Homo sapiens: one gene and its partner. The protein of the gene in region 1 purifies or fractionates together with the protein of each later gene. This does not show direct contact. Each region holds a gene or a part of one and is shown on either strand. Other genes may lie near its edges.

What was found.
Region 2: the proteins of WRNIP1 (region 1) and POLD1 purify together in Homo sapiens (affinity purification with western blotting; 2 studies listed by BioGRID and IntAct, with this or other methods). This does not show direct contact.

The regions. Positions count from the first base shown.
Region 1 is NC_000006.12:2,761,241-2,768,646, reverse strand, and holds the start of WRNIP1 (ATPase WRNIP1), read right to left. Parts: upstream 3,174-7,406; 5' UTR 3,025-3,173; coding exon 2,203-3,024; intron 1-2,202. Other genes in the region: MYLK4 (myosin light chain kinase family member 4), read left to right, coding at 3,174-3,304. UniProt on the Homo sapiens protein: Functions as a modulator of initiation or reinitiation events during DNA polymerase delta-mediated DNA synthesis. In the presence of ATP, stimulation of DNA polymerase delta-mediated DNA synthesis is decreased.
Region 2 is NC_000019.10:50,415,211-50,418,667, reverse strand, and holds the end of POLD1 (DNA polymerase delta catalytic subunit), read right to left. Parts: intron 3,231-3,457; coding exon 3,078-3,230; intron 2,945-3,077; coding exon 2,842-2,944; intron 2,273-2,841; coding exon 2,140-2,272; intron 2,059-2,139; coding exon 1,945-2,058; intron 1,624-1,944; coding exon 1,571-1,623; intron 1,497-1,570; coding exon 1,399-1,496; intron 827-1,398; coding exon 721-826; 3' UTR 654-720; downstream 1-653. UniProt on the Homo sapiens protein: As the catalytic component of the trimeric (Pol-delta3 complex) and tetrameric DNA polymerase delta complexes (Pol-delta4 complex), plays a crucial role in high fidelity genome replication, including in lagging strand synthesis, and repair.

The DNA of each region.
Region 1 (7,406 bases):
CAGAGAGACCAGCACCCATGGGAACCACCACACGCAGCATCACTATTTACCAAAAGCAACTTGACCTCGGAAGAATGCTGAGCAGCACAGAAACAATCAAAAATACCACAGGACATTTAAAAACAACAACAACAAAAATATTATAAATAAAACAGGAAAGTAGCTAAACCTTAGGCTAATCCTGACCTTTTCTCCTCTGTCCCTAACCACCTTTGATTCCTTTTTGGGTGACTCTTTAAGATCTTTGGAATCCCAGTAAAGAACGGCTGTCTTGATTTAGCAGAGTGACAGCTGTGACCTCTCACCAAAGAGAAAATTCTCCCTCCTCTAGCCGAGACAGCACGGAAGGATCTAGGTGCAGAACTCATCGCAGAACCACAGCCCGAACTGGAAGCTCAGGACAGCTGAGAAAAGGAGAGTGAGGGAGCATTTGCCTTGAGACCAATGACATCCACCTAGCATTTGAGATGACTGTAGGCCACTTCTGCATGTTCACTCTGGTAGGAGATGAAGGGCAGCACTGTGGTCACATTAGCAATTACTAGAAAACCAAGGAGACCCAGGTAAAGCACTTCTTGGGTCCTCAACAAATATGTATATGCTGTTATTAATATGAATGTTGTTATTAGTACTAAAGGATGAGAAGAAAAACTGAAGACTGTTTAATGACTGTGACAAATCTGCACCTAAATGGAAAGGTGGTACTTTCTTTTCTAAAAGTTGTAGAGCACCCATTCTGTGGCTGCTTCTTTCAGAAATCCCCGCCTGCCTGCCTTTTGGAATCAGGCTCGCAAGTCACAGATGCCTAGGCTTGCAAATGACCAACGCCCATCTCACTGAGCAGCCTGGACCACCCAAACCTCTTGCCTGGCATTTGGTAGGTGGGATGAGCTCACCCACTCGTCTCCCTAAGGACCTTCTTGCTGTCTGGGGCCACCAACAGCTGATTATCCATTCTCATGATCTTATGTAAAGACTTCACAATTACTAAGAATGATACTGCTCAATCCCTTAAATGGGGTTAACAACTAAATCCATGGGGACAGACGTCAACAACTCGACCACCATCATCATAAGATGTTATTTGGGATAGATGTGGTTTATTCCTGGCCAAAGGGAAGGCATGAGTGCAAACAAGAAGGCACAAAAAGGGCAATTCATTCCAGGAACTGGAGTTAAAGGGGGTGTGCTTAAGTTGTGGGAGATAAAGCTAGAAAGAAAAATAGGAGAAAAATCATAAAAGCCTTGTGTGCAAACGAGTCTGAATCTCAAAGCTACAAGAACTCTTTACAGTTTGATCCCTGAATTCTCCCTTTCCCTTCCTGATGCTGGTTCTTCTCCCTTATTATGGATAAAAGCATCCTGTATTTAAGCACTTCTTAGCTTTCTCTGTTTTCTGGCTCACCTCCTCCATTTTTTTCTCAAGTGTTTTTCCAATGACATGCTTTCTAGACTCACAATATCCTAACTGCCCTCATCTGGAACGCTAACGCCTCACGAAGGGACACAGAACTGGACACCAAAATGCACGGATGTTTCTTCTCTAGAGTACAAGGCATTATGAGAAAAGTTACGGAAATACCGGATGAAAATGACTTGCAGATGAAAAAGTTTTTATGTTAGTTTTGTAAATACATGAGTATATTTAGTAAAATCAATATATTCTCAAGAATATAAGAATGTTAAATAAACTTATTCTTAAGAATAAATACCAGTCTGTTAAACCAACAACTAGTGGAAAAGGAAGGAAGCACAACAGAATTAATTTGATTTTTTTCAAAGCTGAATCCGTTATTATGTACAAACGGAATATACAAATGTTTCTTTACAATTTAAACATGCTGATTCCTTGCGAATTCGGTTACTAAATCAAAGTCTGGGGAGGGGGCGGGGAGACCGATGGAAGATAAAGGCAGATCAAATCTAAGAGTCCACATCTTGTAAAACTATGGATTCACAGACATCGTCCTTTTGCAAACCCGGCAAGCCTGCCTTACCAATCTGGGGGTGTGTGCCCTTTTCACACCCATCACAGACTCCACCTGTGGACCAGGCACTGCCCCAGCCCAGCCCAAGTCTGCACCCCCTTATCCAGGAGAGGCAGGCGGCTTCTTTCGAGGGCAGCACACCCGGCTCTCCGACCATCAGCTGCATCCACCGCCGAGATAACTACGGAAGCCCAACGGCCAAGGCCGCACTCACCTTGCCGCAGCCCGGCGGCCCCCACAGGATAAGCGAGGGGATTTCGTTGGTCTCCAGGAGCGAGCGCAGCAGGGTATCCTGGCCCACGGCCTTGCTCTGCCCGAAGTAATCCTGCAGCGTGTCAGGACGCATCGTGTCGGCCAGCGGCTTGCCCTGTAGCATCTGTCGGATCTCCTCGGCAGCCAGCGCCCGGGGGTGCGGGCGGCCCCCGCCACTGGCCCCGAAGGCGGTGGCGGCTTCGGCAGCGTCCGCGTCCCAGTGCCCCGGGTCGTCCTCGCCGTCCGCGTCCGCGTCCCCGTCGCCATCGCCGTCGCCCACGGCCTCCTCCTCCTCCTGCGCCTCCGCCTCGTCCCAGCTGCGCGGAGACGCGCTCCCCGCCGCGGCGGCGGCCGCCGGCCTCTTCCCCGACCCCTTCCTCCCGGGGCTGCTGGAGCGGGCCACCGGGAAGTCGGGGATAAGGCGGGCGCCGCTGGGTGTGGGCGGCGCGTCGTAGCTCTCGCGGCTCTCGGTCTCGCCGCCGTCGTCGCCCTCCTCACCCTCGCCCTCGCTGCTCTCGGCTGCCGTCGGGGTGGCTGGCTGCTTCAGCGCCGAGCTCTCCGACAGCCGCCGCCTCTTGGCGCCGGGCGGCGAGGGCCCCTTGGCCCGCTCCCCGGCGCGGTGCGACCCGGCCGCGGGCTCCGCGTGCCCCGCCGGGTGGAGCAGCAGACAGCGGTCCAGGTGCGAGTTGATGTGCGCGGCGGGCATCATCTGCTGGCACACGGGGCACTGCACCTGGTGCAGCTGCGAAAGGAAGGGGTCGTCTTCCGGCCCGCTCACCTCCATGGCGGCCGCCGCCCTCCCCGGCGCCCGGCGCGGCCGCAGCAACCCGTGCGCACGCGGAGGCCTTCGATGCCCTCCGCTAGGCCCCGCGCCGCGAGACCCTCGCTCGGGGAACCAGCAGGACGCTCGCGGGCCGGAGGAGGGCGCCGCTCATGCCTCACGTCCGCAGCTCCCGCGTCCGCCCGCCCTCGGCCGGCCGCTGGCAGCGCCTCACGCGGCGTGTCGGGAAGTGTAGTTCGTGGCCGTTTGCCCCGGCGGCGGAGGCGCCTCGCGCGGCATGTAAGTAAGTGTAGTCCGTGGCCGTTTGCCCCAATCACCGCCGAGAATACCTCGCGCGGCACTTCGGGAAGTGTAGTCCGCGGCCATTCGCCCCAGCTGCCGTGCGTCCATTTCCGACTCTGAGAACAGCCTTTGCGGGGGCGGGGGAGGGGCGGGGGGGGGGGTTGCGAGGCGAGCGTGGTGCGCGTGCGCGAGGTTGCGCGGTGGCGGACGCAGCCCTCCGCCCAGGCCTGCGAGTCGCGCGAGGGCAGGGAGGAGCCACGGACTGCGCGAGGTTGTTGGAGCGGCGAGCGCCGCTTTCCCGGCCTTCCGTGCTGGGCTGTTGAATGGGCCTGTGGGGACAAGCAGGAGGCGGCCGCAGCGGGTCGTTTGTAACGAAAGGGAAATGGGGGAAAAAACCCAAAAGCCTCCAATAGAAAACCAGTGTTCTATTGGACGTGAACAGCAGAAAAAATACAAACAAGTACGCGAGTGAAAGAAATGCTCACCTCAGTAGTGGTCAGGGAAATGAAAATAAAGCGTCCCTCGCCCCCTTTTAGATGTGTTGGCGTTTAAGTCAAGGGCGGTTCACCTACAGCGCGCTTCGAGCCAAGAGATGCTTCTCGCGGGCCGCTGTGTAATAGTGGCAAATCGGAAACACCAGCCTTCTGTCTCCTTAGCAACCAAATGATGGGAGGCGCCCGTGTGCAATTACGTCCTAGACGGATAGAAATGGAAAGAATATCAGATTAAAACAAGTGTGGTAGTCTGCATCTTTGAATGAATTACCATGTTATTTTTTGCTTTTGTCTAAGTCTCCCGTTTTAAAACATGTATCTCAAAACAGGCATTTTTGGTAACTAGAAGAGGTAAATGAATTGAGGGAGAATGAAGACTTTTCCGAAATTTGGCCAAAACTTGAATTTTTATTTCATCTGGGCAAGAGCACATTGAGGGTCTCACTCGTTCTGTCGCCCAGGCTGGAGTGCAGGGCCGCGACCAGAGCTCACAGCCTTGAACTCCTGGGCGCCCGGGACCCTTCCGCCTTAGCCTTTGGAGTCGTCCTGGGGTTACAGGCTGAGCCACCACGCCTGGCTGGCTGGTTAAGAGTTGTTTCTAACTAAAAAAGTTAGGCTCAAAAATAAGATTAATAGAAACGCTAGAGAAACAAGTTAAACTTTAATCATCATGTAACGTGAAACTACCAAAAGAGGATCGTGAGCTTTCATTATTTTTTTGAGACGCAGTTTCACTCTTGTCCAGGCTGGAGTGCAATGGCGCAATCTCAGCTCACGGCAACCTCCGCCTCCCGGGTTCCAGTGATTCTGCTGTCTCAGCCTCTCGAGTAGCTGGAATTACGGGCGTCCGCCACCACACCCAGGTAATTTTTTTGGATTTTTAGTACAGACGGGGTTTCTTCCTCGAACTCCCGACCTCAGGTGATCCGCCCACCTCGGTCTCCCAAAGTGCTGGGATTACAGGCATGAGCCACTGCGCCCGACCGTGAGCTTTTTTTTTTCATTTGTCCCTCAGCAGTGAGAGGTGACAGCATTCTGGCAGCCCTCTCAGTCCTCGCTCGCTCTCAGCGCCTCCTCTGCCTTGGCGTCCACTCCGGCCGTGGTTGCGAAACCCTTCAGCCTGCCGCTGTACTATGGGAGCTCTTTCCTGGGCGGGCCAAGGCCGGAGCTGGCTCCCTCAGCTTGTGGGGAAGTATGGTGGGAGAGGCGCGGGCGGGAACCGGGGCTGCGCGCGGTGCTTGCGGGCCAGCGCGAGTTCCGGGTGGGAGTAGGCTCAGATAAGCCTCGCGCTCGGAGCGGCCTGCACCACCGGCCCAGGACGGTGAGGAGCTTAGCACTTGGGACAGCACTTCTCGCCAGGCCGTAGTTGCCTCCACGCAGCGCAAGGCTCAGGCCTGCCATGCCTGAGCCTCCCCCCAACTGGGGACTCCTGCGCGGCCCAAGCCTCCCTGAGAAGCGCTGCTTACTGCCTCACGGCACCCAGGGCCGTTCACCACCCCAGAGCTGAGCAATGCAGGCTCATTACGTGGGACTAGCAAGCAACTCTATACTGCAGCCCCAGTTCAGAAATTAATGGGAGAAGCCAACTGGGTTTCTGAGTCTGGTGGGGACTTGGAGAACCTTTATGTCTAGCTAAGGGATTGTAAATACACCAATCGGCACTCTGTATCTAGCTCAAGGTTTGTAAACACACCAATCAGCACCCTGTCAAATCAGACCAATCAGCTCTCCGTAAAACAGACCAATGGGCTCTCTGTAAAATGGACCAATCAGCAGGTTGTGGGTGGGGCCAGATGAGAGAATAAAAGCAGGCTGCTAGAGCTGGCGATGGAGACCCGCTTGGCTTTCTTTTGCTTGTGTGGGTGTTTTGTTCTTTTATTTTTTGCATTAGCTGGTGTTTGGGTCTGAATTGTCTTAATGAGTGGTAATACTCACTGTGGAGACTTGTAGCTTTATTTCTGAAGGCAGTCAGACCACAAACCCACTGAACCCACTGGCAGGAACGGCTAACTTAAGAGATGCTGACCTAAGACCTCTAACGGTCTCCGGGAAGGTCTGCCAGTTGATTTCTGAGCCGGCGAGATCAGGAAGCTACCAGAAAGAAGAAACTCTGCACTGTGTTTAAGAACTGTTAACAGTTTCCGTGAGGGTCTATGCGTTTATTCATCAAGTTAATGAGAGTAAAAACTCATTGACTGCGAGCACATAAGGATTATTGCAGGAGCATCACAGAAGTGAATACTTGCAAAACAAGTTTTAGGGCTGATCTCAAAGCAAGGTTTTCAAGAAAAGTGTTACTAAATGTGGAAATACAGTACACTGATTTTAAACATTTATAGAGATAACGTGGCCACATGATCAATTAACCCATCCAAAAAATTTTAAAATGGAAACAAATTTCTTGAATCTCTTAATATAAGGCCTAAAATTTCTTTTTTCAGAAAATAATGCTGTGGAAAATCTACAAGTCTACTTGTAATCATTGTTAGTATTTTGGTACCTTAAGTCTCTTAGGACGTGTTTCAAGATTAGACAGTAGAGTTGCATATAGACCTAATTTTACGTCCAACTTTATTGTTAATAGGGTTTTCAAAAGTATTGTCATGGGAAACTTGTGTACTATGGGAGTAAAAATTAAGAGAGATAGAATTAATATAAACTCCGGTAATCCCAGCAGTTTGGGAGGCTGAGGCGGGCGAATCACAAAAGGACAGGAGTTGGGGACCATCGTGGCCAACATGGTGAAACCCTGTCTACTAAAAATACAAACATTAGCTGGGTGTGGCGGTGCGAGCCTGTAGTCCCAGCTACTTGCAAGGCTGAGGCAGGAGAATTACTTGAATCTAGGAGGTGGAGGTTGCAGTGAGCCGAAATCACAACACTGCATTCCAGCCTGGCGACAGAGCGAGAATCCGTCTCAAAAAATAAAAACAAAACCTAATGTATATAGTATAATGCCATTTCCTTTTTCTACTTGTGCTTTTCTATCCTATATTATGTAAATAATAAAAAGGAAAAATACAAAGCAAAGATTGTGTGTGTGTGTGCATGTCTCCCACAGCTACATACATGGATGAAGTTGAGCTATTTGGATGACCTATGAGGTGAAAATGACTCTAGACCTTGACTTCAAGAACCTGGGTTTTGAGCTGTCCATAGTGTGACCTTGGGCAAGCTACATAACTTCTCACACTCAGTTTCCAAATCTAAAGGAGGAATAAGAATGCCTACCTCACGGTCTGTCATGAGAATTAAGTGAACTTGTCAATGTGAAAGTATTTAGTAAAGTGCCTGGCACCCAGTAGGTCCTGTAGTAATATTTTTTCCTGAACCCTAGTCCCCTCTGTCTGAAGTTCAAGGTTTTCTCCACTAGGTGGTGATGGTAGAAAAATAAATGAAAAAAACGTACTTCAAAAATCACCCCTCCTCTTAGATTGCTTTGCCAATCAAATTTAAACTTTCTTTTCAGATCAGCATAAATACAAATAAATTTAAACTCGTATAGTATAAGGTCCCAGGAAATGAAATCAATGTAAAGCAGAAACCTAGGCTTCCATTTTCTCCTTTAATACCTCACTGTTTAATTGTCTGCAGCTGGCCTCGGTGGTT
Region 2 (3,457 bases), on another chromosome or scaffold:
AACATCGAGGAAGGGCTGGGGTTCACTGAAGAGGAGAATCAGGAAACGGAGGATCTGGACCCAGGAGCCGAATTCCAGCAGGGGCGGGCTGGGGGCCGAGGGGCAAGCACAAGACTCTCCCCGGGGGATGTGTGAGGTGACGGGAGGGCCGAGGGCATCTGACGGCAGTTAGAGGCTGCGGGGATAGAGATGGGAGTCGCTGGGGGGAAACCCAGACCCAAAGCCCATTGCCAGGACCCCGACGTGGAAACATCGTGGGTGTGTGGTCCGGCGGGGGATGGGGGGGTCCCCTTGGCCGGGCTGAGGAGTGGAAGCCCCGGTGCGCCTGGGGCTGCCCCAGGGCCTGGAGGAAACAGGTCAGCACCTGGAGGGCGGGGCAGCCACCAGGGTCCCCAGGGTCATCACCAGGGAGGGCTGGGCCGGGGCCAGACACCTGGGGGCCCTAAGCAGGGCAGAGAAGCGCTGGTATAAGGGTTCCTTCAGGGCCAGAGAGGAAACTGAGGCAGGCTTGGCCCACATGAACCAGGCAGCACAGGTGGGAGTCCGGGGGCTTTTGCTGAGGATGAGGGGCGGTGCGGGCCTCAGGAGGGTCCCAGCCAAGGCCAGGGCTTATGAAACCAGACAGTGTCCCCCAGAGACCACAAAGCACCATATAGCAAAAGTCCAGAACTTTATTAATTCTCCCTGGTCCCGCCCCCGCCCCATGGGATGCTTGCAAGGTCACCAGGCCTCAGGTCCAGGGGGTCCGAAGCGCCGCAGGAGCTGCTCCTGGTCTTCCAGGTCCTTCCGCACCTTCTTGCGCATGTAGAAGATGGGGCAGTCCCGGCTGCGGGTGGGGGCAGGGGCAGGGTCAGGACCAGCCAAGGCCCAGTGCCCAGCCTGGGAGAGGGGTGGGGGCTGTTCCCAGGACTTTGGTCCCCGCCTGCTGCCCAGCCCACCCGCCCCCTCCCGCAGCGGGCTGTTTGCTCAGCAGGCACGGGGGGGGTGGGGGGGGGGAGCCGATAACAGCGGGTGCCTGGCGAGGTGCAGGGCCATGGCTGGCCGTATATCACCTGTCACCTGGCGTGGGAACCCACCCCGCCTACCCGTTCCCTGGGGAAAGCCCGGCCCCGCCCTGGGGAGGGGGCCAGGCTGGCTGGGTGTGTCGGGAGGACAGCCGTTTCCCGGGCAACACTGGGTGCCGGGCGCTGCCTCCCTAAGCACCCACCCCCTCTGGGGGGCTGGGATGGGCCCATTTTTCAGACAAGGACACTGAGGCTCAGGACAGCTCACAGCTGGAAGGGGATGGGCGGGGAGGATGCTCAGGAGAGGCCTTGGAGTCAGAGGTTGGGTCCACAACCCACAGGCCTGGGAGCTGGGAAGGGGCGGGGCAGCCCAGGGTCGGGACATGGCACACACCTGGTGCAGATGACGTCCTCGTGCAGGCTGCCCTGGCAGCGCTGGCACTGCGTCCAGAGGCGCGAGAAGCGCTCCTCCAGGGCATTCAGATGGGATACCTGGGGACGGCAGCGGCTGAGCAGGGCGCCCCCGCCTCCCCACCTGGCCCCTCCTCACCTCCCGGCCCTCTCACCTCCTTCTGATACAGCTCAGACTCCCGGGGCTGGCAGAACTCACACACGGCTCCTGTGGGGAGGCGGGTCAGCCCAAGTGCTGGGGCCCAGCCAGGAACTGGGCCACCCCATCCCTGCCCACTGCCAATCCCAGCTTCTGAAAGTCCCCAGAGGCTGGAGAACAACGGAGCAAGTGTGCTGGGAAAACTCCCCTGGGGAACTCCCGGGGTGGGGGCCGAGGACCCTCTGTGGGGGGTGGAGACAGGGGCCACCCACCCAGGGGCCCTGGGCCCACTGGGTGGCAGTGCCAGCCGATGGGGTGGGTGTCTAGGATCTGGGGTGACGGCAGAGCAGGTTGAGGGCCAGTGGGGGCCCAGTGGCCAGGGCCGCTCACCCTGGTGGCTGAGCACTGTGCGGCAGCCAATGCAGCAGTTGCGGCGTTTGGCGAAGGCCAGGAGGCCGCCCACCTTGCCCGTGAGCACCGTCTTGCAGCGCGTGTGGTCCCCCCCTGCAGGAGAGGAGGCAGGTGGTGGGCCGGTGATCTCCTCTGCCCCCCCAGGGTGCCCCCAGTCCCCTGGTGCCCCCGTACGCAGTAGCACAGCCTCGGCACGGCCCTCGCCCAGGATGGGCTCGAAGATGCGCAGGAGGGGCTTGGCCAGCTGCTGCTCCAGGTAGTACTGCGTGTCAATGGGCAGGCTGTGCTCCAGCACGAACAGCGGGTCCTGCGGCCACATGGCAGTCACACCCGGGCAGCCAGGGAAAGGGCACCGGGGTGGACACGGGGTGGTCATGGGGCCTGGGGCTTAGGGCCTAGGCCTGCCTGCGGGCTGTGACATGGGGGGGGCCTGGGTCTGGGATGGGGTCGGAGGTCACGGAGTCTCTGGGCCACAGAGTCTGTAGGGCTCTCAGGTCACCACGGAAGGGTCAGAGTTCACAAGGGGAAGCAAGGATGAGGAAGGGGTCAGGAGGTCAGAGGTCATGGGGCTAAGATGTGGGTCACTGGGGGTGGGGGTAGAGCTGGAGGATTATGAATCCAAGGGAACCCCCGGCTGGGGAGCTGTATGCACAGGGGAGGGACTGGGGCCCCTTCCATAGGGAAGCAAGGGAGGGGTCAGAATAGAGGGGGGACCTCCAGAGGGGGCCGAGGCCACACCCAGGCTGCCATGGGGGGCGGTTCTCAGGGCCCCACAGGGCACGGGAGGCCCCACCCTTCCCGCAGGCCCGCCCATCTCGGAAAGCAGAAGTGAGAGCGAGGGGGCTGGGCGGGAGCAGGCAGCCAGGTGGGCCTGACCTCCGACTTCATGTAGGCGGCCACACCCTTGGCGGCACTGATGATCACGTAGGGGACGCGGTCGCCCAGGCTGGGCGCACTCCCGGGGTCCCGCTTCCTCATCCTGCGTGGAGATGGGGTGGCGGGTGGGTGAGGGCAGGTGGGTGGCGGGGGTGGGGGCGAGGGTGTAGGAAGTGGGCCCAGCTGGCAGGAAGGAGGGGGTTATTTCTGGCCAGGCCACCCGCCCCGCGCAGGACCTCTCGGCCAGCTCCACGTGGGCCTGCTTGCCGGCATAGTCGGAGGCCGCGCGGGTCAGCTCCTTGGTGATGACCAGCTGGGAGATATCGATGCGGTTGCACAGCAGGTCCGAGATGACGTCCTGTGCGTGAGCCACCGCGCCCTCAGGGTCTCTGTAGGAGAGCGGGCCGCACAGCGTCACCAAAAGGCACTGAGGGCCAGGCTGGTGCCTCCACGGGTCTCAGGGCTGGAGACCAGGATGAGCTCTTAGGGCTGAGGCTCAGGGCAGAGAGGGGCCCTTCCTACCATAGGCTGCAGAGTGGCAGAGGCAGGGCCTGAACCCACAGCTGCCCAAGCCGACTCTTTCCACTGCTTCACCACCGAGGAAGAGCTGGGCCTG